Homo sapiens: one gene and its partners. The protein of the gene in region 1 interacts with the protein of each later gene in a biochemical or structural test. Each region holds a gene or a part of one and is shown in the gene's direction. Other genes may lie near its edges. The genes, in order: NTRK1, PTPRO, TIE1, PTPN22, SORT1, PTPN12 and PTPRC.

Region 1 (3,500 bases):
TCCTCCCTCCTGCTGCAGTCTCCTTCTCGCCGGTGGGTGAGTAGCCCAAGGTGGAGGGCAGGTTCTGCCTGGTCTCTGGAGCTGAGGCTGGGGCAGAGGGTACAGCTGAACTGATCCCTGAGAGACCAGCTGGGGCCAGGGTTGGGGGGTTACTGGAGGCTACAGTGTGTGTCAAGGCTCACCCCTCCTGCCCTGTGTCCCTACAGACACTAACAGCACATCTGGAGACCCGGTGGAGAAGAAGGACGAAACACCTTTTGGGGTGAGATAGGAAGTAGAAGCTTGTGCAGACTTTGGGACCGGGAGGCTGGGTAGAGGCTCATCTGCATGTCATTTCTGGTCAGAGCAGGGAGATCACTACCATCTGGCCTGAGCTCTGACGGCCACCCGCACAGCCACTGCAGGGGTCCCCAGGGGAGGATGAGGCAGGTCTGGAGACCTGGCTCCGGGCTCCCATGCAGGATGAAAAAATGGCTTACTACAGGAGGCTCTGAGAGTACAGGAGGAGCCCCTGGATCTAACTACCCCTGTCCCCCACCAGGTCTCGGTGGCTGTGGGCCTGGCCGTCTTTGCCTGCCTCTTCCTTTCTACGCTGCTCCTTGTGCTCAACAAATGTGGACGGAGAAACAAGTTTGGGATCAACCGTGAGTCGGGGCTGCAGAGGGCTGTCTGTCTGTCTGTTCTCCTGGCTTTGTTTCCTACTGGCTCTTCCTGACTCTGTCTCTGGGGGGCTGTGCACATGGGAGTTCCAGGGCGTGTGAGTGTGTTTGGGGTATAAATGAAGGCCTGGCTGTGAGGCTTGTGAGTGTGAGTGTGTGTGGGAGCGTGTGTCGGGCTGGTGCTGGGGTAGTTTCAGAGGCGGCAGCTGCTAATTGGTGGCTGGATTGTAGTCAAGCATTAAGTGGGTCTGGGAGGTCTGGGCTCTGTGGGGGTGGAGGGGGAGTTCTTTGGTGCCCATGGGGCCAGGGGTGGGACAGGAGCCAGCACAGGGAGAGGCGGTGGTGCCCCCTTCCCCCTGCCTGCTGTCTCGCTCCCTAGCTTCTCAGTCTCTCCCCTGCAAGTTACAAGGTGGGGGTGACCAGGCATCCTGCAGGCAAGGGTGGGCAGGGCCAAGGTGTGGGCAAACCCCTCCATGCGGCTGTGTCTCCTCTCTAGGCCCGGCTGTGCTGGCTCCAGAGGATGGGCTGGCCATGTCCCTGCATTTCATGACATTGGGTGGCAGCTCCCTGTCCCCCACCGAGGGCAAAGGCTCTGGGCTCCAAGGCCACATCATCGAGAACCCACAATACTTCAGTGATGCCTGTGAGGGGCTATGCTGGGTCAAGGGCAGGGACGAGTGTGTGTGTGTGTGTGTGTGTGTGTGTGTGTGTGTAGAAGCCCCTAGGCCTGAACGATCCCTCCCTTTCTCCCACCCCTCCCCAGCCCTATTCCAGCCATAGGCCCTGTCATATTCTTCTCAGGCTGAGTCCAGCCTGGCTCTTAGCTGCATCCCCTGCCCAGAGTCACAGCTAGCCCAAACCATGTCCTCTCGGGGCAGGTGCAGCCCCACACTATGACATGGGGCTTGCTGAAGGGGTGCAGGTTGAATTTTAGCCCCCATGCAGTCCCTCGTCTGGGCAGCCTTGTGCAGCACACAGCCCTGCCAAGACAGTCCCCGCTACAACCCCAGCCCTCCCAAGACTGGGGCTACCGTCTGACCCTGCAAGCCCCCTCAGGTGTTCACCACATCAAGCGCCGGGACATCGTGCTCAAGTGGGAGCTGGGGGAGGGCGCCTTTGGGAAGGTCTTCCTTGCTGAGTGCCACAACCTCCTGCCTGAGCAGGACAAGATGCTGGTGGCTGTCAAGGTGAGACCCTGCCCCGGGGGGTACTGCTGGCCTGGGTCCCACCCCCAGGAGCTCCATCACATCAGGACAGAGTGGGGGGAGATGCAGAGGGCTGACATGGCTGGATACCGGGGTGGGCGGGCTGCCCTGGGTGAACAGCAGTGAGGGCTCGGCCCCCAACTCAGTCCTGTCCCTGCCGCTTCCATCCAGGCACTGAAGGAGGCGTCCGAGAGTGCTCGGCAGGACTTCCAGCGTGAGGCTGAGCTGCTCACCATGCTGCAGCACCAGCACATCGTGCGCTTCTTCGGCGTCTGCACCGAGGGCCGCCCCCTGCTCATGGTCTTTGAGTATATGCGGCACGGGGACCTCAACCGCTTCCTCCGGTACCAGCACCTGGCCTCAGCGCTGGCCCCGGCCCCTGGCTCTGGGCCCCGTCTTCCCTTCCCTATAGACATCCCTGCTTGTCTTTCAAACCAAGGGGAGACACCAAGAAAGATCAGGAAGGCACATTCCCGTCCCCAGGGAGCTCTGAGATGGTAGAGGAGGCAGATGTGTGAACATAGGGGTGACTCTTGCAAAGGACAAGTGTCAGTAGTCAGGGAGGTTGCGATGGCAAAGGCCGTGAGCTAAAACTTTGGGGTGGGTGGGCTTTGCAGAGGGTGTATGTGCATTTGTGTGTGGCACACAAAGGCCAGGCCTGTAAGGGTAGCAGTTTAGATAACGACAGTAACAACGACAGTAATGAACATTTATCAGGCACCTTCTATGTTCCAGGTGCTATGTTATATACTTTATAATTTATTATTTTTTATTTTTTAACATGTATTTATTACTGTTATTGTTTTAGAGTTGGGGTCTTGCTCTGTTGCCTAGGCTGGAGTGCAACGGTGTTGCAATAATAGCTCACTGCAGCCTCAAATTCCTGGGCTCAAGCAATTCTCCCGCCTTAGCCTCCCCAGTAGCTGGGACTACAGGTGCACACCATTGCACCTGGCTCTACAATTTGTTCTTATTATGGTTCTATGTGCTGGTACATATATATCTTGTATAGTAATATAAATATGTATTTATTTTTTATGGCCTCCAAGCATATATTGCAATTTACACTTGAAGCAAGTTACAAAAAATTCATTTCTTTGGCTTCGGACAGAACAACTCTGATACATTTATCTATTTGTGCTGATAATTTTAATAACTTCGAGAAATGTGCCTGTTTCACAGATAAGGCTTAGAGAGGTTCAGTGACTTGCCCAAGGGCACACAGGTAGTGAATGGCCCAGGGGTGATGTGGCCCCAGGCAGAGCCCCTACTCTCAGCCCCTGATGTGATGGTCACATGTTCCCTCGGTCTAGTCCTTCTCTGATGAGATCACCCCCGGGAGGATGGGGCAGTGTTTGCAAGGCAGGGAGAAGAGCAGGGTTTGGAATCAGCTGCCACTTATGAGCTGAGCCTTCTTTGCCAAGTAGCTTTCCTCTCTGACCTCACTTTCCTCACCAGTAAGAGGGACAGTGTGGGGGCTGTGGTTCTGGATGAGCAAGCGCTGTATGGTTGTCCAGTTGATGGTCATGATCTGGTCCCCAAACATCCCTTTGGGAGTGATGGGTCATTCATGCAGTCAGGCTGCAGGACTCAGCTAGGAGAGACCCCTGAGTCTTGGGCTTATCCTGTGGACCAG
Region 2 (4,111 bases), on another chromosome or scaffold:
ACTTGTCTATACCCAGGGCCTTTCCAGGTGTCTATTCATGTATCTTCTCTTTTTTATATATGATTTAGAGAACTTTACTGAATATTTGATGGTGGATGAAGAAGCACATGAATTTGTTGCAGAACTGAAGGAACCTGGGAAATATAAGTTATCTGTGACAACCTTTAGTTCCTCAGGATCTTGTGAAACTCGAAAAAGTCAGTCAGCAAAATCACTCAGCTTTTATATCAGTAAGTAACAAAGAGATCATTTTACACTTACTGGGGAGCTAGAACAATGGAACTGGTGGGATTAATGATGCTCAGATGTCAATTATTCACAAACCTTAGGGATGATGAGAAGTCTTCAAGATCAGGAGAGGCTGAGATCCACAAGCTTTGGATAGCAGAGGAAATGAATGCTTGTTTAATAGTAGCAATCCTATCCAGGGGTTTAACTTGAGGATTTTTTTTTTACTATTGTGATAATTGAACATTTATTAAACTGACCTTTCACATTAGCCATAACAAAGCCTCCAAGGATGTGGACATACAGTTTGGGAAATACGACATTTGTTTGAGCCCATAACGAAATGATATTATAGGACTGTGAAAAATCTCATTAGAGTATTGAGCTTGTGAGGCTCAAAAGAAAGACAAAGATTCAAGTGTGGGTACACCCCGATGGTCTCAATAAAACTGGTGGGAAAAGTCATAGCTAGAGCAACCTGAAAGTCCCAGTGTCAAGTCCTAGGGTGGCCTCTACCATTCCATAAGGGTAACAGGACAGCAAAAGCTAGCCTCTGAAGGTTGCACAAACAGTGCCTGCCTCTATAACGTGTTTAGCTAAACTGACTATGTTTACTGGAAGTATAGAGGTCAAAAATCAGTAACCTACCCTATCAGGAGTTATATGTGCCTCCGATCAGTAGAAAGAAAAACCAGAAGGCAAAGAATAAAAATTGCTTTCAGAAAAGGATAACCACCACATATCCTATTGCCATCTGGAAAGGCAAATACCACCTTTCGTTGAAGGACGGATGAGAGCAGAAGAGGAGCTCAGCTTATGTAGCAGCTTAAAAATGTTGAAAATATCCCATATAATATTTTTACTTAAAAGAAAAACCAAAAATGTCACCTCTGGCAAAAGAAAGGCCTTAAAGATTTATCAGATGCGTAGAAAGGGTATTCCCAACTGCCTTGTGTGTCTTTCAAGTGTGAGAGACCTTGGACATGTGATTACTTAAGAAAGAGGACAAAGTCGAGTATTTCATTCTTCCCATAAGACTAAAAATGCCTCACTTACCAAATAGTTTCTTTCTGCACCAGTACAGATCCACCGCACATGTGAACAGCCTCCACGAAAACTCCACAACAATTCTGGTCTTTCTGACTTTTCTCTTCTCTGAATTCCTATTCTGTCTCATAGTAGACAGCACAAAACACATAACTTATTAGTGTGTGGTATTTTTCTAGATTTATTTTATGTACATCTTGCTTCTCATGTCAAGTTGTAAAATCCCAGGCTGGAGTTATACTGTTTGCATATTTATTCATTCTTTTGTACATTCAAGAAATATTTATGGAACCACTTATATCTTTCATGCACTCTGCTCTATTCTTAGAGTATCTAAAGCGACTAGTGCCATTGAGAATATGTCGGAATTGCTCAAAAATGCAATTACTTTAAAGAGATGCATCTTAATATTTATCTAGAAAAATATAGGCTCCTAGAAGTTTTGTTTTTTCTCTGTTGCTAAAAGAATGACTTTTTAAGGAGATTCTGTTCTGTGGTAATGAGCTATTCAGATGTACCATGTATACTTCTTTGGTTTAAAAAATGGATACCGCAGACATAAATACTTACACCTAACTGGGTAAATGAGCAAAAATTAGGGTGGCTTACGTTTGCTCAGCATAATGTAGTCACACACCAGCAAAAGTATATTTGCAGCCTGTTTTTCCTGACCAAACTGTTTCACATATTCTGGTGTTGAGCTGTTACATTACAATTTATTATATGTTTATGTCGTTGCATTATAATTTACATTTATGTAGCTTTGAATGCCTTCCCAGAGATGAGAATTCAGGTAGGAATTTGCACTAGACTGCCAATAGCCTTATGAAGAAAACACTTTTATTACCCCCATTTTTCACATTAAAATACATACTGAATCGCAGAAATTTCAGTGACTTCCCCAAGTGTCAAAATTAAGATTATAACTCAGGAATATTTGATAACAAAACCCATTTTCATTTAGCCTGCCATGACCCATGTCCTTGGGTTGATTATCAAGTCAGTCATAAGGTAAAACTATTAAATAATTGAATTTGTTTTGCTTACTCCAACCTCCACCCTCTGTGCCCCCACTACACTAGTACTCTTCAGAACAGTAGTAACACTTCACGTTTATGTAGTTCTCTAACACATATTATCTCATTTGATCCCAACAACAACCTTATGAGGTAAATTAATCAGATTTTCAAAAGCAATGACTCAAGAGACAGGAGGTCTGGGTTAGGTCACAAGCACTTACTAGCTCTATGACTTCAGGCAGCTTGTTTATATCTCTGGGCCTCAGTTTCCTCATCAGCAAATGTGTTAGTCCATATTTACACTACTATAAAGAACTACTTGAGACTGAGTAATTTACAAAGGAAAGAGGTTTAATCGACTCACAGTTCTGCATGGCCAGGGAGGTCTCAGGAAACTTACAATCATGGCAGAAGACGAAGGGGAAGCAAGCACCTTATTCAGAGGGTGGCAGGACAGAGAGAGAGAGCAGGGGAAACTGCCACTTTTAAACCATTAGATCTCATGAGAACTCGCTCATTGTCTTGAGAACAGCATAGGGGAAACCACCTCCATGATCCAATTACCTCCCATCAGGTCCCTCCCTCGACAAGTGGGGATTACAATTCGAGATGATATTTGAGTGGGGACACAGAGCCAAACCATATCAGCAAAATAAAGCAGTGGGTCTCTAAAGTTCTCTTCAATTCTAAAATTCCATGATTTATCCATTTCACAGATGCAATGACTGAGATTCAGAGAGGTTAACTCATTTGTCCAAAGTTGCACCACTAATAATGACCAAACTGAGTCTTAGTGCAATTATCGTATCTCCAAATTTTTACTATTTCATAGTGCTCCAGGAAGTCTCATGCAGGGTTGAGAGCATGGATTTTGGAATCAGACTTCCTGTGTGTGAATCCTAGCTCTACTTACTCTATCTCTACCTCAGTTTTCACATCTGAAAAGTGAGATTTAATAAAAGTACTTATTTCATTGGCTTGTTATAAAAGTTAAAGGGGCCAGGCACGGTGGCTCACACCTATAACCCCAGCACTTAGGGAGGCCAAGGCGGGCGGATCACCTGAGGTCAGGAGTTCAAGACTAGCCTGGCCAACATGGTGAAATCTTCTCTCTACTAAAAGTACGAATATTAGCCAGGCATAGTGGTGGGCACCTGTAATCCCAGCTACTCGGGAGGCTGAGGCAGGAGAATCGCTTGAACTCAGGAGGTGGAGGTTGCAGTGAGCCTAGATAAGGCTGCACTCCAGCCTGGGTGACAGAGTGAGACTCCATCTCAAAATAAATAAATAAATAAATAAATAAATAAATAAATAAATAAGGAATGAAATACGTAACACATAAAAACTTAAAGAAGGTTATATGCTAAAAAACAGTTTACATGCTGAAAAGCAGTTTATATGTGAGCATCCGTGTTTTAAGCTCAACCACTACTGTGATGTCCTAGACATCTTCCCAAGAGAACTACGGTAGCATCCTTGTGTCTGTGGTGTCACTGACCTGCCAGGAACAAACCTATAAATATGTAATGGGTTCCATATCTCTTTACTATAATTACTATCATTTTGTATTATCATTTCCCTTGCACCATTTACACCAAACCTTAGTCTGTCCTCCCCAGTAGAGCGACTTGCTCCTTTTCCTCTCCTGGATCTCAGCTTAGGAATACAGCATCAAATTAAGGAGCTGAGAATGCATCCTAAGCAAATAAATGGAAGTTTCACATTTGCATTTCAGCAGGGAATTTCTGTAGATAATAATCACCTTAACATGTCTTGAGTCCTTACTAGGTGTCAGGCACTGTGTTAAGAACCACTTT
Region 3 (4,656 bases), about 110 Mb from region 1:
ATCAGGCCCCCCAGGTCTTCCAAGAACCAAAGGAAAAGTTCCACAAAAGTGAATCCTGCCATACAAACAGTCCCAGCACTTTCCAGCTCCTTTTTCATTCCAGATTCAAAGGTCTGGCACCAGGATGAGCTGAAGTGTAAGGCATCCACCACTCTCCCCCTGCTCCTACTCCCATCCCACCCAAAGCCTTGTCTAGAGAAAGCTCCTCCCAGCCTCAGGCCCAGGAATGGGAATCTCTGTGGGTCACACATCAGTAGGGAGGTCTTTCCCGATCCTTTTCTATGCTACTCCAGGAGTCAAAGCGTCTCCTGGGACTTTTCAGGGCGCTTCAGAAGAGCCCTGGGCCTAAACCAGCTCAACCAAGCTGCAGGGACCCAGCCTCCTGAGAAAAGTGAATGTGAGCCCGGTGCATTCAGAGGAGAATGAAGCCTTCACCCAGAACACACTCTGGGAAGATGTCCCAGGCCCAGGGGGAGGGTTTGTACTACCAGACCTAAGTCACCTAAACTGACACCAAGTCTCATCCATCCCAACCATTCCATTCCGGGTCAGAGGGGTCATCGATTTAACCAGCAAGGCTGCCCATCCAACGGTTGCTCCCTCTGCTCCCTGGAAGGGCCTCCTCGTGGGCGTTCTGTACCTACAGGTCTTGTTCCGTTCTGGGAACTGCCAGTGGTGGCAAGAGGTGGAGCAACGGGTGCCAGGGCAGGGAGAGGTGAGTCTGGGAGGGAAGCAGAGGCAAGATCCATGGGGCTTTAGAGACTTTGCCAAAGCAGTGCGACTGCTCCCAGGTTGTTGTCAGCCGTCAAGAGTGAGTGCACCTCCCTGGGCAGACTTCTGCTGCCCCAGTGCCCAGGAATAGGCAGGGGTTTGCCGCAAAATGAATGACACCTGGCAGACAATAAGCTGAAGCTTTCATTAGCAGCTTAAGCTGAGGACTATCTATGCAACCGATACTCCCTGTGTGCTCCCCGGGACTGCTTAATGTGAGCCCTTGTGGAGCGATTGGCACCAAGAAAGCAAGGACTAAGTCAGAAGTTCAAGTCCCAGCCTTGCCACAGCCTCAGGGTGCCCTCGAGCACAGCAAGCCTCAGTTTTCCCATCTGTACAATGAGAGAGGTACACAAGGTAGACTCGAAGGCTCTTTGTTGCCAGGGCCCTGTGTTCCTTTGAGTGTATGTGCTTCTCAGGCCCACAGAGGTCCTTTGTGTTTCGTATGTGAACTGCTCTCTAGGAAACCCATGTAACTGTCTGTGTCCTGGGGCACATACATGAGGACTCATGTGGGCCGTATTGTGTGTTTGTGCCGGGGGGAGGGGAGACCCCAGAACAATGTCCCCCACCCCACCCCCCTCCTCAATAGGCGGAAGCCACTGGCTTCCTCCCTTTCCTGCCTCCTGCCTCCTTTGTGCCAGCAAGACTGAGTACTGGAGAGAGACAGGGGATGGGAAAAATCAGTCCAGCTGTCCCCAGGTCTGCCCTTACCATAACCTTCCCCCCACCTCAAGTGACTCCTCCCAGGCCACACCCATCCCCAGCCTTGTGGGGGCCAGATTGGGGGGCCTAGAGGCTCAAAGGCAGAATGAGTCCTCCCACCCCCTACCCTGCCACCCCTCCCACCCAAGCCACCTCATTTCCTCTTCCTCCCCAGCACCGACCCACACTGACCAACACAGGCTGAGCAGTCAGGCCCACAGCATCTGACCCCAGGCCCAGCTCGTCCTGGCTGGCCTGGGTCGGCCTCTGGAGTATGGTCTGGCGGGTGCCCCCTTTCTTGCTCCCCATCCTCTTCTTGGCTTCTCATGTGGGTAAGTCTCCCCTGAGTCCCTCACCCCATTTCTAGGCCCCGAGGCCCTGATTTCTACCCAAGAAACCCTATTTTATCATAGAGACAGAAAGTAGGATGATGGTTGCCATGGGCTGCAGGGAGGAAGAAATGGGGAGTTTTGTTTAAAAGGTACAGCGTTTTTACAAGATTTTTACTTGGTTTTACAAGATTAAAAGAGTTATAAACATGGGGCCGGGTGCGGTGGTTCATACCTGTAATCCCAGCACTTTGGATGGCTGAGATGGGAGGATCAATTGAGGCCAGGAGTTCAAGACCAGACTGGTCAACATAGTGAGACCCCGTCTCCATTGTGTTTAGACTTTCGTCTTTTTCAAAAAAAAAAAAAAAGGATGGATGGTGGTGATGGTGGGACAACACTAGGAATGTATTTAATCACATTGGGTTATATGCTGCTTACAAATGGTTAAGATGGCAAAATTTGCCGGGTGTGGTGGCTCACGCCTGTAATCCCGGCACTTTGGGAGGCCGAGCGGGTGGATCACAGGGTCAGGAGATCGAGACCAGCCTGGCAAACATGGTGAAACCCCATCTCTACTAAAAATACAAAAATTAGCCGGGCGTGGTGGCAGGAGCCTGTAATCCCAGCTACTTGGGAGGCTGAGGCAAGAGAATCGCTTGAATCTGGGAGGCAGAGGTTGCAGTGAGCTGAGATCGCGCCACTGCACTCCAGCCTGGGCGACAGAGCAAGACTCATCTAAAAAGAAAAAAAGATGGTAAAATTTATTTTATATGCATTTCACCACAACAAAAAATTTTGGAAAACAAGCCCTATCATCACTGCCATCACTTTGATCCACTAGAAAGTGAGATCAAGGCCAGGAAAACACAGGCAAGTGCTAGAAATCACTGCAACCTGGGATCAGGGGAGGAGTGAGGAGTAGCCGCTGACTGTGTTGGATCTGAGGATCTGTGGAGGGCCATTTTCAGGGGGTGTTCATAGGGTAATTGTGTTGGATTCACTCAGTTGTTCACTGGACAAACATTTATTGAGCACCAACAATATTCCAGGAGTTGTGCTAAGTGCTGGGCCATTAGTTGAGAGGCTGGCAACACCTAGTCTGTACAATGAGATTAAATGATGCCAGCCTCCTATGGTTGTTATGGGGTTTAAATGAGAAAATGATGCAGAGCAGTTGGCACAGTGCACTGTGCTTGGTAAGGATTTCTGAGTAGGTGGCAGCTGATTCCTTCAGTCTGCTGGTCAGCCGATTAGAACACAGAGGCTGCCTTTGAGTGGTTCATGGTCTAGTGCAGAACACAGGACAGGGGAAGAGGGCTAAACAGGGACAGACACAGGAGCTCTAGAGGAGCACTGAGGAGGAGTTCAGCTTACACTGCCTCAGGTAGGAGACAAAAAGGGAATCAAGGAAGATTTCACTAAGAGGGGTGGTCTTCATTCCAGGCAGCCAGAACATAAAAAATGCAAGTCTCAGAGGCATGGAGGTGCATGGGAGAGAAGGTGCCTGTTAGGAACACAACAGGAGGGATAGCGTGGGAGCATCACGGGGCTTAGGAGCACGAACATTATCCTGAGGGCAATAGGGAGCCATGGGAGGTCACAGGCAAGAAAGTCACAAGGTCAGGTTTGGTCTTAGATCACCGTGGAGGATGAGTTGCAGAAGGAGGGGCTGTGGCTGTTGGGATGGTCTAGGTGAGTAAGGATGAGGGCTGAACAAAGGCAGGCTGGGGGGGTGGGGATGAAGTCAAGAAGCGTTCAGGAAACAATGTGCAGAATTCTATGACTGATGAGGCAGGCAGCACAGTGCTCAGAGATGTGGACTTTAGAATCAGACAACCTGGCCCTGCCACTCACTAATTGTATGACCTTGGGCAAGTTACTTAACTTCTCTGAGCCTCCCTTTCCTGGCTATAAAACAGGGATAATAACATCCACCTCCCAGGATAGCTGGGATGGTAAAATGAAACAATATCAGTAAAGTGCCTGGTGCATAACTGGCAGCCAATAAACATTCATTATTATGACAATGGGAGTAGAGATGACTCCATAGTTTGTGTCTCAAGTGGCGGGTGCTGTCCAGTGAGTCAGGGAGCACTGGAGAGGAGCAGATTTGGGAAAAGCTGATGGAAATGCAGGTCCAAGCTGAAAGACCGTTCCCGAGTTACTGACTCAGAGGTGATGGTTAAAACTGGGGGAGTGGGCGAGCTTGCTCAAAGAAGCCAGTAGAATAATTACCATGATCCTCCTCTGTAACTGGAAAGAATATCCACTTCACTGGTTGTGAGGATCCAGTGGAAAATGGGGGTTGGTATGTGGTGGGCGGTCAGTAAATGCCAGCTTCGTTTGCTCATGGTAGCCTTTCAAACACTGATAAGCTAGGTGGCATTTAAACTAATGAACTGCTTGACAGTCAGCTACAAGAGACAGAGAAGGAAGGGCTTGGCTGGTGGAGGGGTTCTGGGTCCTGGAGCTAAGGCAGGCTCGCAGGCTCTCCACCGTCCAGACTGGACTCTGACTCCACCTGATCTCTCCTGCCTCAGCCTCACATTTTGTACTCCAGTCACACAAACCTGGAGAGCCCCCTCCACCTGCCACAATATTGCCACTGCAGGCCTCTGTCCAGGCTGTTCCCTCTGTCTAGGATGCCCTCTCCCTGCCCCTGATTTCTCTCCCTCCCCATTGTCCTCACGCCAATGTGCCCTGCTCCAACTGTACCTCCCAGGAAGCATCTCTTCATCTCCCTGAGCTCCCCCAGGCTGGAGCAGGGGTCCCTTCTCTGTGCTCAAAAGCACAGCGCCCTACATTTGGCAGCTGTGTTCATGCCTGTTCCTCCAACTAGGGCGTGAGC
Region 4 (4,111 bases), about 43 Mb from region 1:
AAATATAAAAGAGAATAAAAGATGAAAACATTTTGCCTACTTACTATGTACTAGGCAATCTGCTAAGTGCTTTGCCGTACGTGATCTCGTTTAATCGTTACAACTACCCCAAGAGGAAAATATTATGTTCATTTTTACCCATGAAATGGAAAAGCCCGGATTTGAAACCAGTCTGTTTTTTTTCAAAGCCTCTTAACCTCTGTACTTAAACTGTATCAGGTAAAAATCATGACTTTTTTTCTGATATAACTAGCATAAAATAGTACTTTATTATGTTAATTTCATTCATTGGATTTCTGAGCCTTAAAATGTTCCATGATTATTTTAAATCTGCATTTCCTTATATACGTTTTCTGTTCATCTACTTTCCACAGTAACAACAGCTAATCCATAGAACTGTGTTCCAGACTCTGTGCTAAAAGTGCTTCACAAATAGAACTTCATTTACCTCCCAAAGAACCTTTTAAAATGGCTATCAATGTCCTACATGGTGTCTCTCCAGCTTCTTATAGCATGCTCATTTTCTTGTCCTTGCCATGCTTCCTCTGCCATAGGGCCTTGCACACATGTTGTTACCTCCGCCTTGAACATTCCTCACACTCCTCTTTACCTAGATAACATTTGGTAATTTTTTTTTTTTTTTTTTGAGACGGAGTCTCGCTCTGTCACCCAGGCTGGAGTGCAGTGGCACGATCTCTGCTCACTGCAACCTCTGCCTCCTGGGTTCAAGTTATTCTCCTGCCTCAGCCTCCTGAATAGCTGGGACTACAGGTGTGTGTCACCATGCCCGGCTAATTTTTTGTGTTTTTAGTAGAGACAAGGTTTCACTGTGTTAGCCAGGATGGTCTCTCGATCTCCCGACCTCGTGATCTGCCCACCTTGGCCTCCCAAAGTGATTATAGGCGTGAGCCACCATGCCTGGCCTTTTTTTTTTTTTTTTTTTGAGACAGGGCCTCACTTGGTCATCTAGGCTGGAGTGCAGTAGTGTGATCATGGCTTACTGCAGCCTCAACCTCTAGGGTTCCCATCTCAGCCTCCCAAAGTGTTGAGATTACAGGTGTGAGCCACCATGCCCGACTAATAATTCTTTAGATCTCAATTTGGTGGTCAATTCTTCAAAGAAAGCTTTCTTTTCTTTTCTTCTTTTCTTTCTTTTTTTTTTTTTCTGGAGACAGGGTCTTGCTCTGTCACCCAGGCTGGAGTGCCGTGGCTTGATCATAGCTCACTGCAGACTTGACTTCCTGGACTCAAGTGATCCTCCAGCCTCAGCCTCCCAAAGTGCTGAGATTACAACCATGAGCCACCACACCTGGCCAGAGAAAGCTTTCTGGACCTCTTTGAATAGATCAAATCTTCTATTGTAAGTTCTTATTAGCACCATTTGTTATTTTTCATAGCACTTACCACAATTTCAGTTTTTTGTTTGTTTGTTTGTTTGTCTGTTTTGAGATGGAGTTTTGCTCTTTTTGCCCAGACCAGAGTGCAATGGTGCGATCTTGGCTCACCGCAAGTGACTCTCCTATCTCAGCCTCCCGAGTAGCTGGGATTGCAGGCAAAGTTGCAGTGAGCCGAGATCGCGCCACTGCACTCTAGCCTGGATGACAGAGTGAGATCCCATGTCAAAAAAAAATATATATATATATATATATATTTATTAAATATAAAGGATTCATTGAATCCTAACAGAAAGAAGATACCTAGTTCTGAAGGCCAGGTTTAGGTGCTAACAGTTTAAACTATACTAGAAATCAGACTGGTACTATTGCAACTTCTGGAGATTCATTAGAAGACCAGAGACATATCAAAGATCTGGCTACATCTTGGTTCTATAAAGGAGACATAGATACATCCTGGTTCTGTGTATATTATAGTAATGATACTAACCAAACAGTTATCAACAAGGTACTTCCTACAGAGCAAGTGCACAAACATCTATGAATTGACACTACTCATTCCTGTGAATCAGCCTATCACTTGAACATATTTATCAGCATTTCTTGACCTTTGTGCACATTAAGGTGCAATTTTTAAAAATGCCACCACCAGAATAAATGTATCACATCACCTCTGAAGCTGATTTCTCTAACACCATCTCCAGCCTCTCACTAGGGACCATCTAGTCCTACATTTTCATTTACTCACAGGACACTTAAAACACATTTCTTGGCTGAGCGCAGCGGCTCACGCCTGTAATCCCCACACTTTGGGAGGCTGAGGCAGGCGGATCACTTGAGGTCAAGAGTTCAAGACCAGCCTGGCCAACGTGGTAAAACCCTGTCTCTAATAAAAATACAAAAGTTAGCTGGGCATGGTGGCAGGTGCCTGTAATCCCAGCTACTCAGGAGGCTGAGGTGGGAGGATCACTTGAACCTGGGAGGCAGAGGTTGCAGTGAGCCAAGATTGCGCCACTGAACTCTCTGCTGGGTGACAAGGCAAGATTCTGTCTCAAAAACCAACCAACCAACCAACAACACACACATTTCTTGCCATTTTCTCACATTTTATGTATCTAAAGTTGAACCTCTTGGTTTACTCACCCCAATTTAGCTATTGCCTACCCACCTACCCATTTGCCCCACTATTGCACTGGAAACTAACCTCGATAAGTTTGTCAGTCTTGTTGAAGATGATTGCATTGCACGCTCGTACAATTCAGTCTTGTCCTCCATTCCTACTGGTAGTTCTCCTGATTACTGGATTTAGAAGCCTGAGCTCCTAATGCCATTCCTTACCACTTGTACTTCTTCTGTCCTGATGGAGGCTTGGTATAATACTGACCTATATTTGCAAGGCACTGAGGAACTACCTTGCAGAGTTCTCGAGACAGCCAAACTTTGTGTTCTCCCACCTAGCACAGGAGGGCCAAGTTTAATTTTCCTCTCCCTAAAATGTATCTAAAATGCTACGTCTTCTATCCAGTAATGTAGTCCTTCAAGGCAAAGATATCGTGGTCTTGTGCTTTCTTTTACTTTCTGTTCTTTTTTGGGAGTGACTTTATTTTATTTACTAGTCTGTGAGAATAACATGCAAATGACTCAATCCGAATTTCTAGAATCTAATACTCCTTGTTATACTGGCCAGGATCCCCATTCTCCTCTCCTTTCTTGAAACGAAAGGGGTAGTATCATCTACAAACCAAATGAACTTACTATTAGCTTATCAAGCACACACAGAATCTGGTTTCTCACACATTCCACCCTATTTCAGGGCCCACGAGGGATGTTGAGCTCTCTCTTCACTTTATTCTCTTTTTTATTTTTATTTTTATTTTTTTTGAGGCGGAGTCTCACACTGTCACCCAGGCTGGAGTGCAGTGGTGTGATCTCAGCTTACTGCAATCTCTGCCTTCCAGGTTCAAGCGATTCTCCTTGCCTTAGCCTCCTGAATAGCTGGGATTACAGGGGTCTGCCACCATGCCCAGCTAATTTTTTTTGTATTTTTGGTAGAGACGGGGTTTCACTATGCTGGCCAGGCTGGTCTCGAACTCCTGACCTAGTGATCTGCCTGCCTCGGCATCCCAAAGTGCTGGGATTACAGGTGTGAGCCACCGCACCCAGTCTCTTCACTTTATCCTCTTGGCAACTATTCCCCTGACTTCTCTTGATGGTACTTCCTCTAGGGAACTCACACCCCTACCTTGTAGTTGGCAAAGAAATACCTTCACCCTTTAGATCTCATATCTTTTCTTCACAAACTTAAACCCATCCCCATGACCCTGCTTCCTCTTTTATACCCTTTTGCTTTCTACTTTCAGGGTTCCTCCTTTTCTGGTGTAGTTTATTACTTTTTCTGCCCTAATTTTGCCCTAATTTGTTCTTTCTTGGGATATTGGAGCCCGGGAGTCTGGCAGGAAGAGAGGTGGAAGAGAAAAATGAAGCCTGCCGGGCGCGGTGGCTCATGCCTATAATCCCAGCACTTTGGGAGGCCGAGGTGGGGGGATCACTTGAGGTCAGGAGTTCAAGACCAGCCTGGCCAACATGGCGAAACCCTGTCTCTACTAAAAATACAAAAAAAAATTGGCCGGGCGCGGTGGCTCACGACTGTAATCCCACCACTTCGGGAGGCCAAGGCGGGCAGATCACGAGGTCAGGAGTTCCAGACCATCCTGGCC
Region 5 (4,111 bases), about 47 Mb from region 1:
CCTATGAAAATTTTTAGGTGAAAGATGGAGGCTGTTTTTCCTTCTCTATCCCCAATCTCAATCTCAGGAAACCACAGTAAAAACAAAATCCTTCCACTCAGAACCTGTCGTGTTTTGCCGAGGAAGTTTTCTGTGAATGTAACTTATTTTCTGTTTTGTGTTTTAGTCTCTGGCCCTCGATTCCTCATCTACAGCACAAGAAGTTTTGGACTAGCTTTAAAATTTCTTTCAAAAATTCTATGATTCATATGGGAGAGGCCAGAGGTTGTGATCACAAATGTTTTCCTGGCTGATTCCAAATTTAGAAGCAAACTGTGGCTGTTTGACTTCCCAGTCAAACTTGAACATAGCATGGATTTCACATTTAGGGGTGTTTTACTACCACCTCCAGAACTTGCTTCAGTGAAATATGCATGTTCTTAAAGATAGCAGGAGTACTTTTTTTCATGTAGTTATGAAAGACATTTTTCTCTTTTATTTTGGGGGTAATATTTTACCGTTTGTTCCTTGTTGGCTGAAAAATCTAATGCTAATAAAAGCTACTAGCTTGAATAGTCCAAAAGCAAACCCAACAGATAGCAGTAAATTCATTTTTCTTTTTCCCTTTCCTATAGTACTCTGCCAAAACTGGGGCTTTTTTTCTTCATCCTGGCTGCCTGTGTGTTTGAAAATAGATGGTCAGCTTACCATAAATATATTCACATGTAGAAACTTATATGTGATTAATTGGCTTGATTTATTTTTATCAGAAGAAAACGTATGTATGTTCCTTCTCTGGCTTATGAATACTATCCGTCTTATGTTTGCTTTGGATAAGCATTTTAGTCTTCCTGTATGTCCTAAAACGCGCGCGCGCACACACACACACACACACACACACACATACACACACACACACACACTTTCTAATATTGTACTGAAGCCAGTTTGCAAGTCTGGTTCCACAGTACAATTGCTCTGAAGGACCAGGAGAAATTGAACTGGGAAGGAAAATTTGTATTAACTTCAATAATTCCCAGACAAGTTAGTTCAAATCATTTTTATCTAGTATTTGCTATTTGTCACAAAGGATTCAAAACATAAATATGTTGTATACAAAATCTCAAAGAGATGTCTCAATACCCAGATTTGGGTCCTGGCTCTGCTGCTTCATAGCTGTGTGATTATGGAAAATCACTTAACTTCAGTGGTCTTTACAGTTGTTTTTTAAACTAGAGCAGCAGCTCTTAGGATTGTTTGGAGGGTCAAATGAGAAGTTTTATCAACGTGTTTTGTTAAAGGTAAAGTACTATATAGATGTCATTCATTTAGACACTTACTGAGCTGCCTGCCATGTACTGAGTGGAGTCCAGACCTGTGCATAAACAAAGCAAAGCACTGGGGCTATCTTAAGGATTTAGGTGTTCAGAGATGTTTCACTGGGAGTTTGGAAGAAGGCTTGACCACTGCAGTGCAGTGTTCTGGGAAAGCCCTCTGGCTGAAGAGAGAATCAAAGTGGAGGTGATTTTTAGGGAGATCTGTAACGGCACGAAGGAAGTAGGAAAATCCAAGATATGTTCAAGGGATGGTCAACAGAAACTTTATTTTAGGGTGAGGTAGTTGATGGGGAGTATGACTAAGGTTTCCAGGAAAACATATAGGGAAGTTAAAAAAAAGATAGCTCTTTTGTGGGGGATGGAAAGAGAGGAGGGGCGTGGGTAGTGAGTTTGGCAAAAGGACTTACTTGTGAAAGAGAGAGTTTTAACAGATAGTGCTAGACATGAGGCTAGAGCTGGAGGAACCAGAGGTAGAAATGGGGAGCCAAGAAGAGTTCCCCTTTCAGAGGCCGGCCATTGCTTTGGTCTTGGATGTGAAGGTCCCAGAGGAAAGCAGAACAGAAGGTGAGGCAGACCATCCTTTATACTTGAAGTGCTAACGTTTCCAAAAAGCACTCCTAAACTTCTGGACCTGGTTGAAGAAGAATGTGAGCCAAGGCATGAGGAAGCCAGGAGCTGTAAGACAGTGATGCCTATGAACAGATTTTTCTGAACATTTGTGAACAAGGATAAGGTTGAACTCTTGCTGATAATGTGCTTAATGGTTTGAATCATGGATTATTGGGCCGATTAGCTGGTCAGAGCCCTTTTGCTGATGCGGCTGGCTGACTTGCTTACTGGCCAAGAGCTGGGAGTAGAACACAGATGTCCCAACATGGTGCTGCATTTGGAAGTGTTTCATAGGAGTGTTGAAATCAATGCATTTGCTTTAGGGATAAGGCAAAGTTATGAGATCCCAGTTATAAGTAATATAGTTGTGAATTCTACTCTTTTTCTCAAGGTCATAGTACCCTCAACAGAGCTCAACTAGCCTTTCTAGGCCTCAGTTTCCCGTCACATAAAATGGAGGATTATCATGAAGTTTTGAAGGGAAGATATATGTGAAAATATTTTGAAACCTTGAAGTACCGTATGAGTATGATTTGTATAATTCCTTAATAAACCTGCTGATGTGTCACAGCCCCCACAGGGCCTGCTTGTCAGCCAGGTGATCCTGATAGATACAGCCCTTGAGCCAAACCCTGAGGAGCATGTGTATTAAAGCAGACGGATGAGGCATAAATGCGTTTGGTTTATCACTTGGCAGAGTTGGATGACAGGCTTGGGTGGGGGTGGCAAGAATTAAAGTGAGTCAAGATTGGCAGAAATGTAAGACGTGTATGTAGTGGTTTTCTTCTTTTTTTAAGCCTTTGTGATTATGTCAAACTTTTGTTAATATAATTGATGATGGTTTGAGGCAGTAGTTTGGGGGAACAGGATCTCAGGTATTAGATCTGGATTCAAACTTCAGTGGTGACCATGGACAAATTAACCTCTCTGAACCTTAGATTTTTCATCTATGAAATGGGAGTACTAATACTACCTCTTAGGGTCATTGTGAAGATAGTACAGGATTTAGTGTATATTCTTTTGTTGAGGATTTCTTGTAATGATTTTCATTACAAAGCTTCTGACACATTACCAGTTAGATGCTTAAATATTTGTACATGTGCTTAATTTTTTTCATATCTCTAATATTTCTAGAGAATTATTATAGGTACTCACAAGAACTGCATCTGGATTAAGACATATTAGCCCTGGCTAAGCAGGGTGACTCACACCTATAATCCCAAGATTTTTGGAGTCTGAGGCAAGAGAATCACTTGAGCCCATGAGTTTGAAACCAGCCTGGGCAACATAGTGAGACCCCATCTGTATAAAAAAATTTTTTTAATTAGCCTGGTATGGTAGCATATGCCGGTAGCCCTAGCCACACAAGAGTCTGAGGTGAGGGGATCACTTGAGCCCAGGAGTTTTGAGGCTGTCGTGAGCTATGATTGCGCCGCTGCATTCCAGTCTGGGCAACAGAGCGAGATACTGTCTTCCAAAAATACAAAAAAATTTATTAGGGGTAGGTAGTGGTGCACATCTAGAGTTCCAGCTATTTGGAAGGCTGAGGCAGGAGGATAGCTTGAGCCCAGGAGTTCAAAGCTATAGGACACTGTGATCGCATCTGTGAATAACCACTGTACGCCAGCCTGGGCAACATAGTGAGGTCCCATATCTAAAAGGAAAAAAAAATGTACTACTTGTATCACTGGACTCAGGATGAAAAAAGAGGAGGGTGGGAGATAGGTTTAGGCAGAGATCATCTATTCAAAATGCCTTTCTTTCTTTTTCTTTTTTTTTTGAGACAGGGTCTCGCTCTGTTGCCCAGGCTGGAGTGCAGTGGCACTATCTCGGCTCACTGCAACCTCCGCCTCTGGGGCTCAAGCAGTTCTCTGCCTCAGCCCCCCAAGTAGCTGGGATTACAGGTGCCCGCCACCACACCCGGCTAATTTTTGTATTTTTAGTAGAGATGGGGTTTCACCATCTTGGCCAGGCTGGTCTTAAACTCCTGACCTCGTGATCCACCCACCTCGGCCCCAAAGTGTTGGGATTGCAGGCGTGAGCCACCGCGCCCAGCCCAAAATGCCTTTCTTGAAGCTATGGGAGATAGAGAAGAAAATAATCAGATTAATAATCAGAAAACAGTAATCAGATACCTGGTCATCTGGTTATAATAGCTTCAAGCATATATGGTTAAATAGTTTTTG
Region 6 (4,111 bases), on another chromosome or scaffold:
GCAGATATTTTATTGGGTGGTAGATGCTTAAGTAATTCGTTTAGACACTTTTTTTTAGGTATAAGTAAAACTTACAAAAGCAAATTGATGTTTTTTTCTTTACTGTCTATACAAATTTTTTTAATGAATTTTTTTTCTTCAAGTTTCTTAGTTTAGTAGGTAACTTGATTCCCAAATTCACTTCTCTTATTTGTACATATTGTTTGGGTCTATCTGTTAGGAGACTTTATCTGATAGGAGACTTCATTTTAAGGTTTTTAAAAAAATTTTTTTTTTAGTGTTTTTTGTTTTGAGACAGGGTCTCACTGTGTCACCCAGACTGGAATGCAGCGACGTGATCGCAGCTCACTATATAGCCTTGGCCTCACTGCTGGGCTTAGTGATCCACCTACCTCAGCCTCCCAAGTAGCTGAGAGCACAGGCTTACGCCTCAATGTCCAGCTAGTTTTTGTATTTTTTTGTAGAGACAGGGTTCTGCTATATTGTTCAGGCTGGTCTTGAACCCCTAGGCTAAAGCGATCCGTCCACCTCAGCCTCTCAAACTACTGGCATTACAGGTGTGAGCCACTGCCTAACTTTTTCAAGACTATTTTTTTTAGAGCAGTTTTAGGTTTACAGCAAAATTGAGAGGAAGGTACAGAGATTTCTTATATACACCCTGTCCCCACACATGTAGCCCTCATTATCAACATTCCCTACCAGAGCAGTCTCTTTGTTACAATTCACAAACCTACATTGACAAGTCATTATCACCAAGAGTTCACATTTTACATTAGGGTTCATTCTTGGTGCTATACATTCTGTGGGTTTGAAGAAATATATGATGACGTGTATCCACCATTGTGGTATCATACAGAATAGTGTCATTGCTCTAAAAGTCCTGTGCTCCACCTATTCATTCATCTCACCCCCTTCCCAACCCTAGGTAGTCATTATTTTTACTGTCTCCATAGTTTTGCCTTTTTCAGAAGTCATATAGTTTGTTTTTGTTTGTTTGTTTGTTTGTTTTGAGACGGAGTCTTGCTCTGTCGCCCAGGCTGGAGTGCGGTGGCACTATCTCAGCTCACTATAACCTCTGCCTCCTGGGTTCAAGCAATTCTACTGCCTCAACCTCCTGAGTAGCTGGGATTACAGGTGCGCGCCACCACACACAGCTAAGTTTTGTATTTTCGTAGAGATGGGGTTTTACCATGTTGGCCAGGCTGGTCTCGAACTCCTGACCTCAAGTGATCCACCTGCCTCAGCCTCCTGAAGTGCTGGAATTACAGGCATGAGCCACTGCTCCCAGCTCAGAAGTCATATAGTTTGAATCATACAGTATGTAGCCTTTTCAGATTGGCTTATTTCACTTAGTAATGTGCATTTAGGGTTCATCCATGTCTTTTCATGGCTTACTAGCTCTTTTTTTCCTTTTATTATTTTTAATTGACACATAGTATCTATACTTATTAATGGGGTACATGTGATTTTGGTACATGTATGTGTAATTTAAAATGTGGAGTGACTAAATCAGGATAATTAGCATGTCTATCACTTCAAACATTTCAAATGTTTGATGACTTTTAGAATTTTTTTATAATTATCAGGTACATCTGGAATTTTAAAGATTAATTTTATATTGTGGACTTTGATACAAGTATTTTATTTGTTTTGATGTGTCTTTTTGTTTTAACGTTTTCACTGACTTAGAAATGTTTCTCTTTATTTAGGAGGATGAACAAGCAAGAACAGACTACTTCATCAGGACACTCTTACTTGAATTTCAAAATGTAGGTACTTACCATTTATAGACTATCTGTAAGAATAGTTTTCAGGCTGGGTGCAGTGGCTCATGCCTGTAATCCCAACACTTTGGGAGGCTGAAGTGGGAGGGTGACTTGAGTCCAGGGGTTCAAGACTAGCCTGGGCAACATAGTGAGATCTTGTGTCTACAAAAAGAAAAAAGTTAGCCGGGCATGGTGGCATGTGCCCATAGTCCCACTCACTCAGAAGGCTGAGCCCGGGAGGTTGAGGCTGCAGTGAGCCATGATTGTGCCACTGCACTCCAGCCTGGGCAACAGAGGGAGACTCTCAAAAATGGTTTTGAGAATAGAGAATAGTTTTCAAAGAGAAGACATAGAGAGGGAGGGGAGCGTGGGCTGAAAAACCACCTATTGGGTAGTATGCTCACTCCTTTGGTAAGGATCATTTGTATTCCAGACCTCAGCATTATACAATACACCCATGTAAGCTGCACATGTACCCCTTAATCCAAAATAAAAGTTGAGGCCAGGTATGGTGGCTCACTCCTGTAATCCCCAACACTTTGGGTGGCTGAGGTGGGTTGGTCACTTGAGGCCAGGAGTTCAAGACCAGCCTGGCCAACACGGCGAAGCCCCATCTCTACTAAAAAATACTAAAATTAGCTGGGCATGGTGGTGCACACCTATAATCCCAGCTACTCAGGAGGCTGAGGCACTTGAATTGCTTGAGCCTGGGAGACAGAGGTTGCAATAAGCCGAGATGGTGCCACTGCACTCTAGCCTGGGCAACAGAGCAAGACTCTGTCTCAAAAAATAAAATAAAAAATAAAATAAATGTTTTAAAAATAGAAAATATAATACTACTACCTAAATGTTTTATTTGGTAAAATGGGTTTGCTAGAAAATTATTTTGCTTTATATCTGCAAAATGCAAATAATATATATAATATATATTATTATTTTGCTTTATATCTGCTTTATAGTTTTTTGTAAGTAAAAAAAGTAACAGCAATTTTTATTTTTAAAGCATGTGAAGTTAGTTTTTGTCTTTGCAAACTAATCAACTTTTAGCTACTAAAAAAATAAAACAAGCTATATAAATAGTATACTATGTTATTTAACATAATTAATGAAATTTGGTAATTTTTTAGTTACGAAGATGAAATGAGAGTGTAATATTTAGTCTTGACATTTATGCTTATCACATTACATAAAAAGTAATATTAATTATAACATACCCTAAATTTGTTAAATTTGGAATAGTTATACCTTCTTTGCAGCAAATATTTTTATTCTATTGCAGTAAGCAGGTTATTGCATTGTTTATATAATTATTACCCTGTTTTACTGGTTTACAATTTGTTAAAGAAAAGTCACTATCAAAGCTAAGTCTTCATTTAGATATATATTGTTTTTAGTTGAAACCCCCCACAGCGCCCCGACTTTTTTTTTTTTTTTTTTGGCAACAGGGTCTCACTATATATTGCCCAGGCTGGACTCAAACTCCTGAGCTCAAGCAGTCCTCCCATCTCCACCTTCCTAGTATCTGAGACTATAGGGATGAGCCACCAAACCCAGCTAAATTTTTTATAGTTTATAGAGATGAAGTCTTGCCATGTTGCTCAGGCTGCTGTCAAATTCCTGGCCTTGAGTGATCTTGCCTTTTGCATTGGCCACCCAAAGTGTTGGGATTACAGATGTGAGCCACTGAATCTGGACTGGTTGCTAATTTTTTAATCTACGGTAATAATAATAAGTACCTTAATGAATTTCTGTGGTAGATCAGGCATCTTAATTCTGCTAACTGCATCATATCCAGATACTGTTACGTCTGTTGCACATAGATGAAGATACAGAAGCTTTAAGAAGTTAAATAGCTTACCTGAAGTTATTTAGGAAATGGCCAAAGTAGGAATTTGAGTATGGTTTGCTTAGATTCCGAGTATTGCTCTTTCTGTTAAACACCTGCAATAACCATTCTCAAAACATTTGACATCAGTACTCCTTTACATTCTTCAAAGTTATTGAGGATCCCAAAGTTTTTGTTTCTGGGGGTTGTATCTTTCAGTATATACTATATTTGAAATTAAAACTGAGAAATTTTTAAAAAACATGAATACATAAGCATATATTGTATTGGCTGTTAAAGAATAAGGCACGTAACATTTTAGTATTATTCTGAGAATTATTTAAAGCTCATAGACTCCCTCAAAAGGGTTGAGGGGAGGGGGTACCCAGACCGTATATTGAGAACCACTAATCTGTAAGAAGACTAGTGAGTTTGGCATTGGACAAATTCATCTCTCCATTCTTTTTCAGTTTAATGTTCTGTTAGTCTTCTGATTACAATGAATACTACTCTAACCTAC
Region 7 (4,111 bases), about 42 Mb from region 1:
ACTGTGTTAGCCAGGATAGTCTGGATCTCCTGATCTCGTGTGATCCGATCCGCCCGCCTCGGCCTCCCAAAGTGTGTTTGTTTATTTTTCCTCACATTTTTAGCTTAAGATATTTTGGAGAACTGCAGTTTTATCTCGTTAACTTAATGATGGCAAGTGACAGTGAAGCTTCTTGGTAATTGGGGAATTGGGGAAGAGATCTTTTGTGCTTTATTGGATTTAAAGGATTATTTTTCAAAAGTTACTGAAAGCAATAGGCACCTTTCAAGACCACCATGATGTTGCTGGAAATTATTTTGTGTAATGCCTTTTATTTTTTTAAGAAAAAAAAAACAGAACAAATTGCTTAATCTCTCTGTGGCTCAGTTTTGTCATCTGTAAAATCAGATGATAGTGAGTACCAACTAATAGTTGCAGTGATGGTTAAATTAATTATTTCATGTATACCCCTTGAAACAGTGCTTGGCACATACAGTGAGTTATTATTTTTAAAAATCGTTATTGATATTATTATTACTGTTGCTGCTATCCAGAAACATGTTGCCACTCTAATCATCCTCTTTCCTGATGTCACTTGGCTACTCAAAAATAGCAGCAGCTGGTGATTTTTTTACTTAACAAGTGCTAAGTCTTCTGCCTGAGTGTGAAAACACACTTAGACACTGTCCTACCTCTCATATGCCTCCCCAGCCAGAGCTGTTGTCCTGATCAGGTTTGTCACTAAACTCAAAAACATTCCTTCTTCCGTTTGTAATATTTTCTTTTCTCCCTTACATGTATTCAGTTCCACTTACCTTTCAATGAACAGCTGAATTCCACTTCCGGCATGAAACTCCCTCATTCTCACAGCTCCCGTTAATTACTGTAGTGTCCAAATTACTATGATAGAATCAACCCAATGACTGATGATCAAATGGATTCTGCATCTAACATTCAAAACAGTAGCTAATACCGATGTTCAAAGTTTGGAGGTTACATATCAGAAAAGGTTTTCTAAAAAAGAATCATTCTGAAACATGCAACTCAAGACTTACAGTATACACTGGGGGCTGTGTTTTCTCAGAAACAAAAGAGATCGTCTTCACAAATGAATCTGAACTTATTAAATATTTTATGTACCAAATTAATGATATAAAACCATAATTTTTCAATATTTAATTTTACCAATGATAATTGAGTTTGTTCAATACACTGGCTGATAATTGTAGGTACTTTTGAGTATCAAGGATGTACTTATTTTTCAATCACTCAATAGTTTGGAGTTCACTTGGAACAATGTGATGTAGAGACCAAATTAATTAGGTACGTGGTAGTACTGACTTTTAACGACTTACTAATTTTTTTTCACATTTTTCCTCAGAAAAAGATTGCCTCAATCTGGATAAAAACCTGATCAAATATGATTTGCAAAATTTAAAACCTTATACGAAATATGTTTTATCATTACATGCCTACATCATTGCAAAAGTGCAACGTAATGGAAGTGCTGCAATGTGTCATTTCACAACTAAAAGTGCTCGTAAGTTATATGTTTTAATGCTTCTTTCCATAAATGGTAAAAAGCAAGGTATGAACTTTTTAGCCTACAATATTTCTATCTTTATTCTAGCAAGCACATTTACCTGGCACATTTGTTAACATCTAGGGCTTATAAACACGTAAAATCTAAAAGTTTAAAAACCGTTATCCTGGATTCTCTCTCTTCTTCAGATATAGTCATAGAATTTTAAGGACAAAGCATAAAAGCATCTTAATTGGCATCAGTTTGTGCAATTTCATGCAGTTAAGTACTTAACCAACTTAGATTAAAACATTCACTGTTTGCTGTTGTCTTTACTATCTGGAAATATTAATTGTAATCAGAAACCTAACAATGTCTCATAAAGCATTAGCCTACTAACCTCTGTTCATCTGATAAAACATTTCATAAAATGTAATATTTTATTAGCATTTTCTTCTCTTCGTTACCCTCAACTACTTACTATTCTATTTTATGTCACATTATCCATTTAAGGTTTCCTTTCAATGGCATTTGGCTCTTGCCACTAGTATAATCTCTCCATAGTTTCCAGGCCCAAAGTTAGATCTGCTTCTGGGGCACATGTTAACCTCCATCGAGGACAGGGAAGAAGAAATGCCGTGTTTTAAGGCAGCATCTATAGCTCCAGAGACCCTAACGGGCACTAGACTTGTGAAGAAATATTGTGCTATTTGGGGCTGAATATAAGACACTTTTAAGGTCATTTAGGTTTTGGTTTGAAAAGTTCTGGTCCTGGAGCTCTATGCTTTTGTTGTTTTCCTGAGTTTCTGTATCACAGAAAAAGAAGACAATTTGTTTCTGTTCCTGAAGAACCCATCTAGGTGTTTACCAGGATAACATTAGCACTCCGGGAAAGAAGGGTCTAGATTGTGTAATAGGACTTGGAGGTTTCCCAATCAACAACATTTTTCCTCTCCTCTCCCCAAACTTCCCCCTCTTCCCCACTCCCTTCCCTTTTTCTCTATTCTCTAATTCTACACAGTCTCCTTCAGGGATTGCAATAACTCTCATGGCTTCATGTACAACCTATATGCTAATACTTACTGAATAAATGAGTGATTTATTCTTCAGGGTTTTGATATTGTTTTTTAATTTATGTACTATCATAACTTCCTTATTTATAACCCCCAAGCTAACACTTAAAATACTTTATACTATATCCAAGTATTGTCAAGTAATTTACATATGCATCTATTAAATTATTAATAACAAATCTTTCTTCATTTTGATAGCTCCAAGCCAGGTCTGGAACATGACTGTCTCCATGACATCAGATAATAGTATGCATGTCAAGTGTAGGCCTCCCAGGGACCGTAATGGCCCCCATGAACGTTACCATTTGGAAGTTGAAGCTGGAAATACTCTGGTTAGAAATGAGTCGCATAAGAATTGCGATTTCCGTGTAAAAGATCTTCAATATTCAACAGACTACACTTTTAAGGTAAAAGTATGCTCTCTACATTACTATAGTACCAACTACATTATAATGATTGATTCATAGTACTTAAATAACTTTAAGACCACTGCTCACATGAGATTGAGAAGCTCTGATGTGTAATGGAATCACACTTAAAGAGTCTCAAATATTTGACTCTAAAATTTTTATTCCTATAGCTCAAGTCAGTGGTTTAAAGCAAATGTTTCATTGGAATATTTTAGAACTTCAATATGACTTAATTATAGCTAAATTATTGCTTCTGTGTTAAGAAGCACAACACTTTATGCACAACAGATTATTACTTTACCAAATCTACCTTTTCTTTACTTTGGCTTTTTATCTTTATTAATGTGGAATTTTTCAATTGCAAAATTTCACAGGTACCTTGAGGTTAGGAAATATTTGAAATAAACACTAGACAATACTAGTGAGCATACAGAATTTAAAACACTCATTATCTCACTGTCTACTGATCGTATTTTGTACATGTAACTTCATAATATACACATTTATATGCACTTAACACGTATTATCAACATTCTGAGTACACAGTTTTCAAAATACAGTTTTAAAACTGTATTTTTAATATATCACTATATCACACACACCTTTCTATGTTAAATATTTAACTACTATGTAGTTTTTAATGCCTGTATAATATTCTATGTATGGCTTTATCACATTCTATTAACTATAACTATGTTGGTCTCTAATATAAACAACATTCCGATAACACACTTATTGGTAAAGCAAAATTTTTGAATGTCTTTAATAATTTATGTTTCATAAATTCCTAAAAATGCATTTATTGGGTCAAAATGTATTTTGAGGCTTTTTGGATATGTAACTTTTTTTTTCTATAAAATTTACCAAATTGCCCTGGTGTATCAGTGTATGAAATGACTGCTTCTTGAGAGGCTCACCAACACTGAATACGCCTTTCTTTTTCTTTATTTGGTGGTTGAAATATGGTATTGATATCTTTCTTTTAATGAAGTTTCTTTACTTATTGTTCTTTGTGTTATTCTTTGCCTCTTTTATCCAGTTTTCTCCGGAGAAATGCCTTGAATATTAATGATATTAAACTCTTTGTCACATGCGTAAAAATGTTATCAGTTTATAATTTGCCTTTT

What was found.
Region 2: of the proteins of NTRK1 (region 1) and PTPRO, one has a biochemical effect on the other in vitro, tested with the Homo sapiens proteins (one large-scale study listed by IntAct).
Region 3: the proteins of NTRK1 (region 1) and TIE1 interact in a biophysical measurement, tested with the Homo sapiens proteins (one large-scale study listed by IntAct).
Region 4: of the proteins of NTRK1 (region 1) and PTPN22, one has a biochemical effect on the other in vitro, tested with the Homo sapiens proteins (one large-scale study listed by IntAct).
Region 5: the proteins of NTRK1 (region 1) and SORT1 form a complex in vitro, tested with the Homo sapiens proteins (one study listed by BioGRID and IntAct).
Region 6: of the proteins of NTRK1 (region 1) and PTPN12, one has a biochemical effect on the other in vitro, tested with the Homo sapiens proteins (one large-scale study listed by IntAct).
Region 7: of the proteins of NTRK1 (region 1) and PTPRC, one has a biochemical effect on the other in vitro, tested with the Homo sapiens proteins (one large-scale study listed by IntAct).

The regions. Positions count from the first base shown.
Region 1 is NC_000001.11:156,874,365-156,877,864, forward strand, and holds part of NTRK1 (high affinity nerve growth factor receptor isoform 2 precursor), read left to right. Parts: intron 1-18; coding exon 19-36; intron 37-206; coding exon 207-262; intron 263-541; coding exon 542-644; intron 645-1,155; coding exon 1,156-1,302; intron 1,303-1,715; coding exon 1,716-1,846; intron 1,847-2,035; coding exon 2,036-2,208; intron 2,209-3,500. UniProt on the Homo sapiens protein: Receptor tyrosine kinase involved in the development and the maturation of the central and peripheral nervous systems through regulation of proliferation, differentiation and survival of sympathetic and nervous neurons.
Region 2 is NC_000012.12:15,503,840-15,507,950, forward strand, and holds part of PTPRO (receptor-type tyrosine-protein phosphatase O isoform a precursor), read left to right. Parts: intron 1-68; coding exon 69-230; intron 231-4,111.
Region 3 is NC_000001.11:43,299,322-43,303,977, forward strand, and holds the start of TIE1 (tyrosine-protein kinase receptor Tie-1 isoform 1 precursor), read left to right. Parts: upstream 1-1,660; 5' UTR 1,661-1,750; coding exon 1,751-1,808; intron 1,809-4,656. UniProt on the Homo sapiens protein: Transmembrane tyrosine-protein kinase that may modulate TEK/TIE2 activity and contribute to the regulation of angiogenesis.
Region 4 is NC_000001.11:113,861,447-113,865,557, reverse strand, and holds part of PTPN22 (tyrosine-protein phosphatase non-receptor type 22), read left to right. Parts: intron 1-1,280; exon of another isoform or gene 1,281-1,360; intron 1,361-4,111. UniProt on the Homo sapiens protein: Acts as a negative regulator of T-cell receptor (TCR) signaling by direct dephosphorylation of the Src family kinases LCK and FYN, ITAMs of the TCRz/CD3 complex, as well as ZAP70, VAV, VCP and other key signaling molecules.
Region 5 is NC_000001.11:109,387,544-109,391,654, reverse strand, and holds part of SORT1 (sortilin isoform 1 preproprotein), read left to right. Parts: intron 1-4,111.
Region 6 is NC_000007.14:77,596,133-77,600,243, forward strand, and holds part of PTPN12 (tyrosine-protein phosphatase non-receptor type 12), read left to right. Parts: intron 1-1,709; coding exon 1,710-1,769; intron 1,770-4,111. UniProt on the Homo sapiens protein: Dephosphorylates a range of proteins, and thereby regulates cellular signaling cascades. Dephosphorylates cellular tyrosine kinases, such as ERBB2 and PTK2B/PYK2, and thereby regulates signaling via ERBB2 and PTK2B/PYK2.
Region 7 is NC_000001.11:198,715,322-198,719,432, forward strand, and holds part of PTPRC (receptor-type tyrosine-protein phosphatase C isoform 1 precursor), read left to right. Parts: intron 1-1,360; coding exon 1,361-1,519; intron 1,520-2,772; coding exon 2,773-2,981; intron 2,982-4,111. UniProt on the Homo sapiens protein: Protein tyrosine-protein phosphatase required for T-cell activation through the antigen receptor. Acts as a positive regulator of T-cell coactivation upon binding to DPP4.